Linked DNA regions of Homo sapiens. The protein of the gene in region 2 purifies or fractionates together with the protein of the main gene of each other region. This does not show direct contact. Each region holds a gene or a part of one and is shown on either strand. Other genes may lie near its edges.

Region 1 (7,364 bases), about 140 Mb from region 2:
ATACAGTTTGAACTAGATTGAGGGTGAGGGGTTGAGGGTCATTTATCCAGTATCTAAATTCATTGTTAACTAGATTTCTCTTTTTACCAAAGAATCTTTGAGTTTTAGATATTCTAGTTATGTTTACTGAATTGAATCTCTCTTGACTGCTTTGATCTTGTTTTGGGAGGTATTGCTCATAGAATGGATTTAGTTGATTGGCTTTCTCTTAAAATTTAAGAAATAACATGTTTCATTGCAGGATACAAGTTTAATTTCTAACAATTTATGTGTCCCAGTGAAAAGAGCAACCCAAATTTATTTAACTATTTTGAGGTCATAGACAATATTCAAGTATATTTACTTCATTATCATTCATTACATTAATTTAATTAATTGTATTAATATTCATAGTTAATATTAATGATATATTAACAACTACTATGGTAGTAATTATTAGAATAATAGGAAATTATATTTAGAAACTCAGCTAACAAGTAGAGTGAAGGACTATATATTTTTATTACCAACTAGACTACAGTAAAATGACTATTTAATATTATTCTGATCTCAGAAATGAATTTGGGTTGTTCTTTCCTTGTCATATGAAAAACACTCATCCCACTTAAAAGCCAGTCACTACCTAAAAGTACCCCCACATCAGAATGAAGCCGTGCACCCACAGTGTCTGTGGTCTCCTCTGCTCATTTAATAGTAAAGTTTGTGTGTGCATTCCCATTATTGTTTCCTCATAACCACATGGGGTTATACCACACACAAAGAAGCTCTCTTTTTTTTTTTTTAAAGCATAAAAAGGAAACCATTTAAATATTGTAGTTGCCGTGGAGTTCTTTCCAAATCAGGTCATGGAAATCTACCTTAATCTTTTTTATGGTTACGTTGTATTTCACATAAGGACTTACTAAGTTAAGGTTTGATAATCCAATTAACCTTTTTCTTTCATTTTTAAAAATAAATTCCCTAATTGTGTCTGAGGATGGGCACGTTAGAATAAGTTTTCATAGACTCACGGGAAATTTAAATTAACAGCCCACCCAGAAGGAAATACATGTTTACATTCTGACCCCATTTCTCTGGTAACAAGTCTGTTAAAGCAAAATAATCTTTTGGGGATTATTCAAAGATCCAGAAGAGGTGAGGGGTAGAAGTTAAGTTGCATTCTGAGGTATTATAAATTATAGGGACCAGGCATAGTGGCTCATGCTTATAATCCCAGCATTTCTGGAGGCTGAGGTAGGACGGTTGCTTAAAACCAGAAGTTCGAGAGACTCCCTCTCTACAAAATAAAATATTAGGCGGGCATGGTGGCTCATGCCTGTTAGCCAGACTACTCAGGAGGCTAAGGCAGGAGGATCGCTTGAGCCCAGGAGGTCGAGGCTGCAGTGAGCTATGATCGTGCCACTGTACTCCAGCCCAGGGGACAGAATGAGACTCTGTTTTCTTTTCTTTTCTTTTCTTTTCTTTCTTTTTTTTTTTTTTTTTTGAGACGGAGTCTTGCTCTGTCACCCAGGCTGGATTACAATGGTGCGATCTTGGCTCACTGCAACCTCTGCCTCCCGGGTTCAAGCGATTCTCCTGCCTCAGCCTCCCATGTAGCTGCAATTACAGGTGCACACCACCACTCCCGGCCAATTTGTTTTGTATTTTTAGTAGAGACAGGGTTTCACCATTTTGGTCAAGCTGGTCTTGAACTCCTGACCTTGTGATCCACTCACCTCAGCCTCCTAAAGTGCTGGGATTACAGGCGTGAGCCACTGCCCCCGGCCTGTTTTCTATTAAATAAATAAATAAATTTTAAAATATATTATGGGGTTCGAATGAGCTATAGACCTGGGTTTGTTTGTTTGTTTGTTTGTTTGTTTTTGTTTTTTGAGACAGAGTCTTGCTCCTCGCCCAGGCTGGAGTGGAATGGCACAATCTTGGCTCACTGCAACCTCTGCCTCTTGCATTCAAACGATTCTTCTGCCTCAGCCTCCTGAGTAGCTGAGATTACAGGTGCCTGCCACACACCTGGCTAATTTTTGTATTTTGAGTAGAGACGGGGTTTCGCCATGTTGGCCAGGCTGGTTTCAAACTCCTGACCTCGTGATCTGCTCCCCTCAGCCTCCCAAAGTGCTGGGCTTACAAGTGTGAACCACCAAGCCCAGCCTCAGACCTAGTTTTGTTTTGTTTGTTTTGTTTTGTGTTGTTTTGTTTTGTTTTTTTGAGATGGCGTCTCTCTCTGTTGCCCAGGCCAGAGTGCAATGGTGGTTATCTTGGCTCACTGCCACCTCTGCCTCCTAGGCTCAAGGAGTCCTCTTGCCTCAGCCTCTGGAGTAGCTGGGACTACAGGCAAGCACCACCATACCTGGCTGATGTTGGTATTTTTAGTAGACGCAGGGTTTCATCATGTTGGCCAGGCTGGTCTCAAACTCCTGACAAGTGATCCACCTGCTTCAGCCTCCGAAAGTGCTGGGGATTACAGGAGCAAGCCTCTGTGCCTGGCCTATAGACCTGGTTTCGTATCCCAGCTTTATTACTCACTAGCTGTACTCTGCCTGGTTATATTCATCTTTCTAAATTCATTTATTATGGAAAGTGTAGTATGTATTTAGAAAGCTCATGGCTTTATTACTCTTAATAAATCTGTAGGTACCTTGCCAATGGGTGCAGAAACAAACATATGACTTTAGAAATTTAAAGATAGTTTTCTGGGTAATGACCGATATGGGTAGATAAGTGAAGTTCACTAACTTACTGCTTGGGAACAGCTGAAACAACAGTAAGTATAACCACAAGTAGAGCCAGAGGAGAAAGGTCCTGGCAGGGTGGCGGTGACTAGTATTATTTTTTTATATCTTCTGGGATTTTTGAAGATTGAAGGGGATCTTCAAAATAAATTGCAAATAGCAAAGAAGTTGGTGCTTGACTGGAGATGGTTTTCAGATTGAGCAGTAGATTGCTTTATCTTCTGTTTGAATTGATAACTTTGAATTGATAACTTAAGGCAGTGGTCTTGTGATGGCTGGACACAGCTTACAAAATATTATTTTAATGCAGTGTGATTTCAAGATTAGTCAAATGGGAGGCAATAAAGTCTGCAGGAAATGATAACCTTTGAGTGTGGGAGTAGATGTAATTTTGTTAAGCAGCGCTTGCCATGGCACAGAGGTCCCAGGACTCCTGGAATCCCATTTTTGACTACTTCCTTCCTTGCAAGGAGAAAGAAAATGCACGGTTTTAGCTTTGTACGTTTGTTTTTATCTCATGATTTTTTTTTCAATCACAGACCTAGATTAAGGACGTAAAATTGAGGTTAATGGCTACCTCCTTTAGAATTAAAATGAAATCGGAAATTCAGAAGTTTTTGAAAACAAGAAAAGAGAGCTAGAAATACCAAACTTTAGCAAAGCAAGAAAAGCGTACCTGTGGATTTTTCTTAAGTTTAAGAAATAGGAAATAGATAATGACTTTTTTTCAGCTGTTTTTTTTTTTTCCAAATATATTTTTTTAAACTCAGGTGAGTTATGCATATCTGAAAATGAAAGAAGGCTTGTTTCTAAAGAGGCTTGGAGCAAACTGCAGCAGTACTTTCCAAAGGCTCCTGAGTTTCCAAGTTACAAAGAGTGCTGTTCACAGTGCAAGGTACTGAACGCTACTGACATCTGGGGAAATGGCATGCCACCTCCCTGGGTTGACTTCCCAGGGGAATTAACACTGTACTTCTGACGGGGGTGTAGGGAGGAGGCAGGTCATGTGCTGTCAGCAGGAGACAGTTGATTGCTTCATTCTCTTTCAGATTTTAGAAAGAGAAGGGGAAGAAAATGAAGCCTTACATAAGATGATTGCAAACGAGCAAAAGACTTCTCTCCCAAATTTGTTCCAGGATAAAAACAGACCGTGTCTCAGTAACTGGCCAGAGGTATAATGATTCCCACAAAAGAAAGAATGCATCTTTTCTTTTTAAAGCCCTTGCCAAATTCCCAGTGAGCTATTTCAGAACAACCCAGAACTTCTCATATTCTCATTTGTTTAGTTATCTAACCAGGGGATTTACTCCAGCCTGCTATTTTTTGGTAGAGGACTGTGTTTTCATTTTATTTATAAAACTTGAATAAGGACAACCAAAGTATATTATAAGGAATTTGTGTTAAGCAGGCGGTGAATTGACGGATACTGTTTTGTGATTTTTGTGTTCTAGGATACGGATGTCCTCTACATCGTGTCTCAGTTCTTTGTAGAAGAGTGGCGGAAATTTGTTAGGTAGAAACAAAATATGTTTTATTTCCTTTATTGTTACTGATTTGGTTGACTCTGGTATTTTTTAAGATATCGTGGATTCTGTTTGTTGTACCCTTCCTTCATGGTTACTTTCACCAGCATACACTGAAAGCTTTCTTTTCTATTAATTAAATGAATAAGCCTAAGAAACACATTGAATTACTAATATTTTCTTAAATATATCTCTGATTTTGAAATAATTATTTTAAAATCTTCTCTTTCGTCATGCAGTAATTAGGTATATTTCTCCTCCTTGTCTCATTTGAGTAGAAAGCCTACAAGATGCAGCCCTGTGTCATCAGTTGGGAACAGTGCTCTTTTGTGTCCCCACGGGGGCCTCATGTTTACATTTGCTTCCATGACCAAAGAAGATTCTAAACTGTGAGTTCCTTCTCTTCATGTGATTTTTTTTTCTTCTTTTCTCTTTTTGATGATTAATAAAATATGTTTAGGAAATTTCTCATCTGACATAGTCTGTTTTAAGAATTTAGTCCTTTGCTGAATTGTGGGGTTTTTTTTTCCCCTTTTAAAAGAGAAGAAGACTGCTTCTCCAGGAAAGACAAGAGGCTGCCCGAGGCTATTTGTCTTTTTGCTCTTTCCTTGTCCCTCTTGAAGACAACACAGCCACCCTTTCTCTTCCCCCGCTGCTGGTGACCAGTGCTGAGACCTCTTTTCCAGAATCACAGAATCAACATGGTCTTGGTTATAGGTTTTGTTCTGCCATGGCCAGGCTTCAGACAATTAAAGGAGGAGGCTAGCAGGGTGGCAGAGCAAAGCCACTGCACTGGTCATCTGGAATTCTAGGGTCTTAGAACCCAAATTTTATTCCATGCTTCAAGTACTTCCAGAGGTGTTCATCTGTGAATTTCTCCCGATTTTACCAAAAATCGTGATATACGAGAAGGTAGAATGCTTCCAACATTGTCAGAAAATCAGGAAAAGGAAATTGGAACACATAAATAAAAATGCCCTTGGGGTTAAGCTAGAGTTTTATTATTCATATTTCAGTACTTTAACATCATTTAAGGGAGTTCAAAGTTTATATATTCTCTACATTTTCTCCCTCCTCTTTCTCTCCCTCCCTCTCTGCATCCCGCCTTCCCTGTTGCTCTCTCACTCTCGCTGTGCATCTCTCTTCTCTTTCCTCCCTCCCTTTCTTCCTGTCGTTGTTATTGCAAATGTCAGACTTCCAGGAAAATACACCAGTAAGCAAATGTGTGTTACCATTCAGTTTAAAAGTTAAATGGTTCAAATATGATTAAAGGCCCCACAGTGCTTATCCTTCTGTTGCTACTTCTCTTTCTCCCACCCTTCCTCTCACACTAACCACTGTACTGAATTTAGAGTTTATCTGTCTCAGAAAGTATTCTGTAAAAAAAAAAAATGCACGCACATAATGTCTTGCATATTTAAAACTTTTTATATAAATGGCACCATACTGTATTTATACTTCTGCAACTAACTTATTTTACTCAATTATGTTTTTGAGATCTAACCATGTTGATTCATGTAATTTCAGTCCATTTAGTTTCGCTGCTGTGGTAACATTCCTTTGTATGAAAAACTATTCTTTGTTGATGATACGTATCTTTTCTCTCTAATTCCTTTGGATTAAATGTTAGTGTTAATGGTTTTGGTTTAGCAGACTAATGGATTATGTTAATTCTCTTAATTTCCATGTGTCTTAAGGCATGTTGTGTTTTTTTTTTGCACAGTATAGCTCTCATATGGCCCAGTGAGTGGCAAATGATACAAAAGCTCTTTGTTGTGGATCATGTAATTAAAATCACGAGAATTGAAGTGGGAGATGTAAACCCTTCAGAAACACAGTATATTTCTGAGCCCAGTAAGTTTTCATATTGCTTTCGGTTTCTATAGTTAAGAGCTGACATTTTAAGAAGAAAGGGTGTGTCAGTGTTGTCTGCTTAAAGTTAAAGATCATGCGGCGGTCCCAACTCCCTAGGTGGAAACTCTCATTATAATCATCCCATTATTTGTACGTTTATTTATGGACAGTAAATGGATTTCCTTATCATTTGCATGTAATAGAATATAGTGGTTAATAGAAAATATTATTAAGAGTTTGGGCCAGCACACTAGCTCATACCTATAATCCTAATACTTTGAGAGACTAGGGTGGAAGGATTGCTTAAGGCCAGGAGTTTCAGACCAGCCTGAGCAACATAACAAGACCTTCTCTCTACAAAATAATAAAAATGTAGCACATATCTGTAGTCTTGAGCTACTCGCTGAGAGGCTGAGTCAGGAGCATGGCTTGAGCCCAGAAGCTTGAGGCTACAGTGAGCTATGTTCATACCACTGTACCCCAGCCTGGGTGACACAGCAAAACCTTGTCTCAAAAAAAGAAAATGTTACTAAGAGTTTAATGAATATTCACTAGTAACTTTGACATATGTTTTTAGATCTTTGATTCTTTAACAATGATTCCTCAGCCACTTCTGTTTTCCCTTTTTTTTTTTCCCCCAAAGAACTCTGTCCAGAATGCAGAGAAGGCTTATTGTGTCAGCAGCAGAGGGACCTGCGTGAATACACTCAAGCCACCATCTATGTCCATAAAGTTGTGGATAATAAAAAGGTACTGGTCCCTCTTGTGGCAATGACTAGTAATGATCAAGCGTGCTCTTTGGCTTGATTTGCTGTTGTATTTGCACTGAGGGTCTGCCTAGGACTGCATTTTTGTTCCTTCAGAGCTGTTTGGCATCAGAATTGAAATTGGACAATAATTGAAAATGAACAGTTATGTGATTATATGAGAATTTAGTTTGTTATTAATTGATGCATAGATATTTACTGAATGTCAGCTGTGTTCCAGGAATGGTCCAGGTGCTGGGGATACAGTGATAAAGAAGGCAGGTATAATACCTTCTCTCAAAATTATAGGCACCTAGTGAGGAAGATCAGGAATAAAGTATAAATTCATATGATTTCACACAGAAATGATTGTTTTGAAGGAACTTTAGCAGGGTCAAGTGGAGGTTAGTGTGAGACAGGGAGTAGACAGGAGAGGCGTCTTGGAGAAGTTGTTTTTACCCAAGCCCTCACTGTCAGGGATGCAGCCTGGGAAGTGTTTTCCAGACAAAGGA
Region 2 (7,000 bases):
CTGGTCCACAGGATAAGCCCAAGACTCAGGGGTCTCTCCTAGCTGAGTCCTGCAGCCTGACTGCATGAATGACCCATCACTCCCAAAGGGATGTTTGGGGACCAGATCATGACCATCAACTGGACAACCATACAGCGCTTGCTCATCCAGAACCACAGCCCCCACACTGTCCCTCTTACTGGTGAGGAAAGTGAGGTCAGAGAGGAAAGCTACTTGGCAAAGAAGGCTCAGCTCATAAGTGGCAGCTGATTCCAAACCCTGCTCTTCTCCCTGCCTTGCAAACACTGCCCCATCCTCCCGGGGGTGATCTCATCAGAGAAGGACTAGACCGAGGGAACATGTGACCATCACATCAGGGGCTGAGAGTAGGGGCTCTGCCTGGGGCCACATCACCCCTGGGCCATTCACTACCTGTGTGCCCTTGGGCAAGTCACTGAACCTCTCTAAGCCTTATCTGTGAAACAGGCACATTTCTCGAAGTTATTAAAATTATCAGCACAAATAGATAAATGTATCAGAGTTGTTCTGTCCGAAGCCAAAGAAATGAATTTTTTGTAACTTGCTTCAAGTGTAAATTGCAATATATGCTTGGAGGCCATAAAAAATAAATACATATTTATATTACTATACAAGATATATATGTACCAGCACATAGAACCATAATAAGAACAAATTGTAGAGCCAGGTGCAATGGTGTGCACCTGTAGTCCCAGCTACTGGGGAGGCTAAGGCGGGAGAATTGCTTGAGCCCAGGAATTTGAGGCTGCAGTGAGCTATTATTGCAACACCGTTGCACTCCAGCCTAGGCAACAGAGCAAGACCCCAACTCTAAAACAATAACAGTAATAAATACATGTTAAAAAATAAAAAATAATAAATTATAAAGTATATAACATAGCACCTGGAACATAGAAGGTGCCTGATAAATGTTCATTACTGTCGTTGTTACTGTCGTTATCTAAACTGCTACCCTTACAGGCCTGGCCTTTGTGTGCCACACACAAATGCACATACACCCTCTGCAAAGCCCACCCACCCCAAAGTTTTAGCTCACGGCCTTTGCCATCGCAACCTCCCTGACTACTGACACTTGTCCTTTGCAAGAGTCACCCCTATGTTCACACATCTGCCTCCTCTACCATCTCAGAGCTCCCTGGGGACGGGAATGTGCCTTCCTGATCTTTCTTGGTGTCTCCCCTTGGTTTGAAAGACAAGCAGGGATGTCTATAGGGAAGGGAAGACGGGGCCCAGAGCCAGGGGCCGGGGCCAGCGCTGAGGCCAGGTGCTGGTACCGGAGGAAGCGGTTGAGGTCCCCGTGCCGCATATACTCAAAGACCATGAGCAGGGGGCGGCCCTCGGTGCAGACGCCGAAGAAGCGCACGATGTGCTGGTGCTGCAGCATGGTGAGCAGCTCAGCCTCACGCTGGAAGTCCTGCCGAGCACTCTCGGACGCCTCCTTCAGTGCCTGGATGGAAGCGGCAGGGACAGGACTGAGTTGGGGGCCGAGCCCTCACTGCTGTTCACCCAGGGCAGCCCGCCCACCCCGGTATCCAGCCATGTCAGCCCTCTGCATCTCCCCCCACTCTGTCCTGATGTGATGGAGCTCCTGGGGGTGGGACCCAGGCCAGCAGTACCCCCCGGGGCAGGGTCTCACCTTGACAGCCACCAGCATCTTGTCCTGCTCAGGCAGGAGGTTGTGGCACTCAGCAAGGAAGACCTTCCCAAAGGCGCCCTCCCCCAGCTCCCACTTGAGCACGATGTCCCGGCGCTTGATGTGGTGAACACCTGAGGGGGCTTGCAGGGTCAGACGGTAGCCCCAGTCTTGGGAGGGCTGGGGTTGTAGCGGGGACTGTCTTGGCAGGGCTGTGTGCTGCACAAGGCTGCCCAGACGAGGGACTGCATGGGGGCTAAAATTCAACCTGCACCCCTTCAGCAAGCCCCATGTCATAGTGTGGGGCTGCACCTGCCCCGAGAGGACATGGTTTGGGCTAGCTGTGACTCTGGGCAGGGGATGCAGCTAAGAGCCAGGCTGGACTCAGCCTGAGAAGAATATGACAGGGCCTATGGCTGGAATAGGGCTGGGGAGGGGTGGGAGAAAGGGAGGGATCGTTCAGGCCTAGGGGCTTCTACACACACACACACACACACACACACACACACACACTCGTCCCTGCCCTTGACCCAGCATAGCCCCTCACAGGCATCACTGAAGTATTGTGGGTTCTCGATGATGTGGCCTTGGAGCCCAGAGCCTTTGCCCTCGGTGGGGGACAGGGAGCTGCCACCCAATGTCATGAAATGCAGGGACATGGCCAGCCCATCCTCTGGAGCCAGCACAGCCGGGCCTAGAGAGGAGACACAGCCGCATGGAGGGGTTTGCCCACACCTTGGCCCTGCCCACCCTTGCCTGCAGGATGCCTGGTCACCCCCACCTTGTAACTTGCAGGGGAGAGACTGAGAAGCTAGGGAGCGAGACAGCAGGCAGGGGGAAGGGGGCACCACCGCCTCTCCCTGTGCTGGCTCCTGTCCCACCCCTGGCCCCATGGGCACCAAAGAACTCCCCCTCCACCCCCACAGAGCCCAGACCTCCCAGACCCACTTAATGCTTGACTACAATCCAGCCACCAATTAGCAGCTGCCGCCTCTGAAACTACCCCAGCACCAGCCCGACACACGCTCCCACACACACTCACACTCACAAGCCTCACAGCCAGGCCTTCATTTATACCCCAAACACACTCACACGCCCTGGAACTCCCATGTGCACAGCCCCCCAGAGACAGAGTCAGGAAGAGCCAGTAGGAAACAAAGCCAGGAGAACAGACAGACAGACAGCCCTCTGCAGCCCCGACTCACGGTTGATCCCAAACTTGTTTCTCCGTCCACATTTGTTGAGCACAAGGAGCAGCGTAGAAAGGAAGAGGCAGGCAAAGACGGCCAGGCCCACAGCCACCGAGACCTGGTGGGGGACAGGGGTAGTTAGATCCAGGGGCTCCTCCTGTACTCTCAGAGCCTCCTGTAGTAAGCCATTTTTTCATCCTGCATGGGAGCCCGGAGCCAGGTCTCCAGACCTGCCTCATCCTCCCCTGGGGACCCCTGCAGTGGCTGTGCGGGTGGCCGTCAGAGCTCAGGCCAGATGGTAGTGATCTCCCTGCTCTGACCAGAAATGACATGCAGATGAGCCTCTACCCAGCCTCCCGGTCCCAAAGTCTGCACAAGCTTCTACTTCCTATCTCACCCCAAAAGGTGTTTCGTCCTTCTTCTCCACCGGGTCTCCAGATGTGCTGTTAGTGTCTGTAGGGACACAGGGCAGGAGGGGTGAGCCTTGACACACACTGTAGCCTCCAGTAACCCCCCAACCCTGGCCCCAGCTGGTCTCTCAGGGATCAGTTCAGCTGTACCCTCTGCCCCAGCCTCAGCTCCAGAGACCAGGCAGAACCTGCCCTCCACCTTGGGCTACTCACCCACCGGCGAGAAGGAGACTGCAGCAGGAGGGAGGAGAGAAAGCAGTCAGAGGGAGGAGAGAAAGCAGTCAGAGGGAGGAGGAAAGCAGTGAGTCCCCTGCCTACTCTGGGACTCATTCCTTCATGGGACGAGGGGGGATGGAGGTGGGCTGCTGGGCCTCAAGGAAGAAGATGCATGTGACCCTTTTCCAGCTGGGCCAGGATGCCCTGCTGCATGGCTGTCTCCTCAGCCAGCCGACAAGGACGGAATAGCTCAGGAGTTCAGGAGTCCTGGCTTGGGGAGAGGGTAAGGAGGCCAGAACAGCGGGACACCAGGACTCCAGACTCCTTTCTGTCCCGAACCAGGCACTCCAATTTCTGGGGTCAGGGCTATAGCAGGAAGTTGGCTGTAACCCAGGAGGAGCCCAGGAGTGGGGGCAGGGTTCAGGATGGCCCTCGCACCAGGGATGGGGTCCTCGGGGTTGAACTCGAAAGGGTTGTCCATGAAGGCAGCCATGATGGAGGCGGAGGCCTGGCCGAAGGGGTTGGCAGCCAGCAGCGTGTAGTTGCCGTTGTTGACGTGGGTGGGCTGGTTGAGGCGCAGACACCCGTGCCGCACGGTCTCATTGGCTGCCGGCTCCAGGAACTCAGTGAAGATGAAGCTGGTCTCATTGAGCACGGAGCCATTGAAGAGCCAGCGCAGAGACGGTGCCGGCTGCCCATCCACAGAGAAGGGGATGCACCAGTGGTGCATCTCCACCGCCGTGTGCAGCTGCACACTGGCCGGGACTGTGGGCCAGAAAGAGCAACAGCAGGAGGTCAGGGCGCAGCTGGAGGGAGCCTGGCACACACCCGACAAGTCCACGGGCAAAGCGAGTAGAACCCGAAATCAAAGGGCAGGCCTGGGAGAAACAGGTCAGCAGGCCCTGGGAAATTCACCAAGGAGAGATGTTTTGAAGAAAGTTGACAATACATTTTAAATAAATCAGGCAGCAGGCATATAAAATTTAGAGGCTTAAAGAACATAAGTGGTGGGCCATAAATAAGTCACAGCCCCACAGGAGTGGGGTATCAGCTTATGACAATTAAACATGGAGTCTTTGGGATAAGGAATCTAGAAGAAGTCAGTGTAACCAAGCTGAAGAAGATGGGTCAGGGGCCCTAACAATCAAACCAGCCAAAAATATATACAGTTAAATTTTTGGGGAAAAGCCAGGCACAGTGACTTGCTCCTGTAATCCCAGCTACTCAGGGGGCTGAGGTGGGAGGATCGCTTGAGGCCAGGAGTTCAAGGCTGCAGTGAGTTATGATCCCAAAGCATTCCAGCCTGGGCAACAGGCTGAGACCCCATCTCTTCAAACACACACACACACACACACACACACACACACACACACACACACTCTTTTTGAAAAAAGATATGCGTTTGAAATAGACCCAATCTGGGCCAGGCGCGGTGGCTCACGCCTGTAATTCCAATACTTTGGGAGGCCGAGGCGGGCGGATCACGAGGTCAGGAGATCGAGACCATCCTGGCTAACACGGTGAAACCCCGTCTCCACTAAAAAAATACAAAAAATTAGCTGGGCGTGGTGGAGGGCGCCTGTAGTCCCAGATACTCAGGAGGCTGAAGCAGGAGAATGACGTGAACCTGGGAGGCGGAGCTTGAAGTGAGCCGAGAGCGCGCCACTGCACTCCAGCCTGGGTGACAGAGCGAGACTCCATCTCAAAAAAAAAAAAAAGAAATAGACCCAATCTGGTAAAAGTAAAAGCCCCTCAATGATAGAAAAAAAGTGTATGTATGCATAAATATATGTATATATATATATAATATAGCATTCATACATAGGAATACTATTTAGCAATGAATTGCATGAGCTACATATAGCAACTCCCATTAACATGAATGAATCTTATAAATATAATGTTGAATGAAAGAAACCAGATACAAAATAATACACGCAGTATGATTCCATTTATATAATGTACAAGAACAGGCAAAACTAAATGATACCGATAGGAAAGCATATTTGAGAAAAATTATTTTTAAAAGCAAGGAAATGGTTATCCTGACAAAAGTCAACATGAGATGGGAGAGTGGGATGGGATTGCGAACAGGGAGAGGTGTTGGGTGGTGGGGGATCTTCCGTGATGCTGGTAAGAGTAATTATTGTTTAAAATATATATATTTTTTGCACATTTCTATGTATATTTCACAATAAAAGAAGAAAACTGATGTAAAGTAGAATATTTAAGATAATTTGTTGGCTGATCTAGAGAAATTAGGCAGCGAGCGTAAAGAGGAACTCAGGAGGAGAATTTCCTCTTTTGAAACTAGGATGCGGGGAGAAGGACCCGATGAGGGACGGGCATGAAAAAATACTTCGGAGCAGTGGGAACAGCCGGGCATCTGGCGTTGAGGGCCTCAGGTAGCAAGGCTCGGGCAGGGGGCCAGAAAGAAATCCATCTCCATCCCTCTGGCCTTGACAAGACCCCAGGACTTCCCCCAAAGGATCAGGTTTTCATGGGAATCTGGAAACAGCTGGGAGGGAGCAGCTGTGGAGACACACATCCCACCCTTTCTTCCAGCCCCCCACCCTACATCCTCTTTTGAGGGAAGAAGAGATGAGTAGGGGGTGGGTGCCGGAGCTGCCACTGAGACTCACAGGAGACGTTGACCTGAACAGAGACCTCTGCCCGGCCCACATCGTTCTCTGCCCAGCACGTCACGTTCTTCCTGTTGAGGTCACTGGTGACATTGGCCAGGGTCAGCCCCAGGGATGGCAGACCCCCAGATTTCTAGATCAGGAAAGAGAGGGGGGAATAAGAAGGAGCTTTAGCCAGCTTGGGGCTGGGGCTGAAGTCTTTGGAGAGCCCCTCTGGCTCCAGATGGAAAGGAGAGGAGGGCTGGGAGGGAAGAGAAGGGAGAGAGGGGTGGGAGAGAATGTAGCAGATAATGGCCTTCCTCCTTTAGGTTTGTTCGTTGACTATCTCCTGGATCACATTTTTTTTTTATTTTATGTTTTATTTTTGTAGCGACGGGGTCTTACTGTCCTGCCCAGGCTGGTCTTGAACAGGGCCTCAAGCAATCCTCTCACCTCGGCCTCCCAAAGTATTGGGATTACAGGCGTGAGCCACTGCGCCCAGCCTGGATCACGTATTTAATTATCTGAAAAATCTAAAATCTAACCAGTAGCCTCAAAATAGGCACAAAATATCCCAAACTGAAACTAAAACCAGCCATCTGAGCAGCTAAACAGATGTCACGCATCCCAAGTACCAAATTTGTACACAGCTCGTTGGAGACCCCACTAGGACCTCACTGCCTATTCATTCCTGTTTTACACACAGTTCTAACAAACTGAGTCTCAGCCCAAGGAAGATCAGAAACAAAGAGATGGTGCAAATAGCACAGCAGCAGTTAGAAACAACAGCAGCGGCATCGCCTCCTGCAGCAGATGAGGACCATGGGTGAGGTTAGACAGGCAAAGTGACTTGATTCTGAATCATCGTCAGGATTGAATCAGATCAAGTTTCTCTTCCTAGGAAACCGTGGA

Evidence for each region.
Region 1: the proteins of NTRK1 (region 2) and USP48 purify together in Homo sapiens (affinity purification with mass spectrometry; 2 studies listed by BioGRID). This does not show direct contact.

Annotation. Positions count from the first base shown.
Region 1 is NC_000001.11:21,703,004-21,710,367, reverse strand, and holds part of USP48 (ubiquitin carboxyl-terminal hydrolase 48), read left to right. Parts: intron 1-3,499; coding exon 3,500-3,624; intron 3,625-3,778; coding exon 3,779-3,901; intron 3,902-4,180; coding exon 4,181-4,242; intron 4,243-4,530; coding exon 4,531-4,641; intron 4,642-5,975; coding exon 5,976-6,106; intron 6,107-6,749; coding exon 6,750-6,856; intron 6,857-7,364.
Region 2 is NC_000001.11:156,870,865-156,877,864, reverse strand, and holds part of NTRK1 (high affinity nerve growth factor receptor isoform 2 precursor), read right to left. Parts: intron 6,243-7,000; coding exon 6,110-6,242; intron 4,233-6,109; coding exon 3,906-4,232; intron 3,483-3,905; coding exon 3,465-3,482; intron 3,295-3,464; coding exon 3,239-3,294; intron 2,960-3,238; coding exon 2,857-2,959; intron 2,346-2,856; coding exon 2,199-2,345; intron 1,786-2,198; coding exon 1,655-1,785; intron 1,466-1,654; coding exon 1,293-1,465; intron 1-1,292. UniProt on the Homo sapiens protein: Receptor tyrosine kinase involved in the development and the maturation of the central and peripheral nervous systems through regulation of proliferation, differentiation and survival of sympathetic and nervous neurons.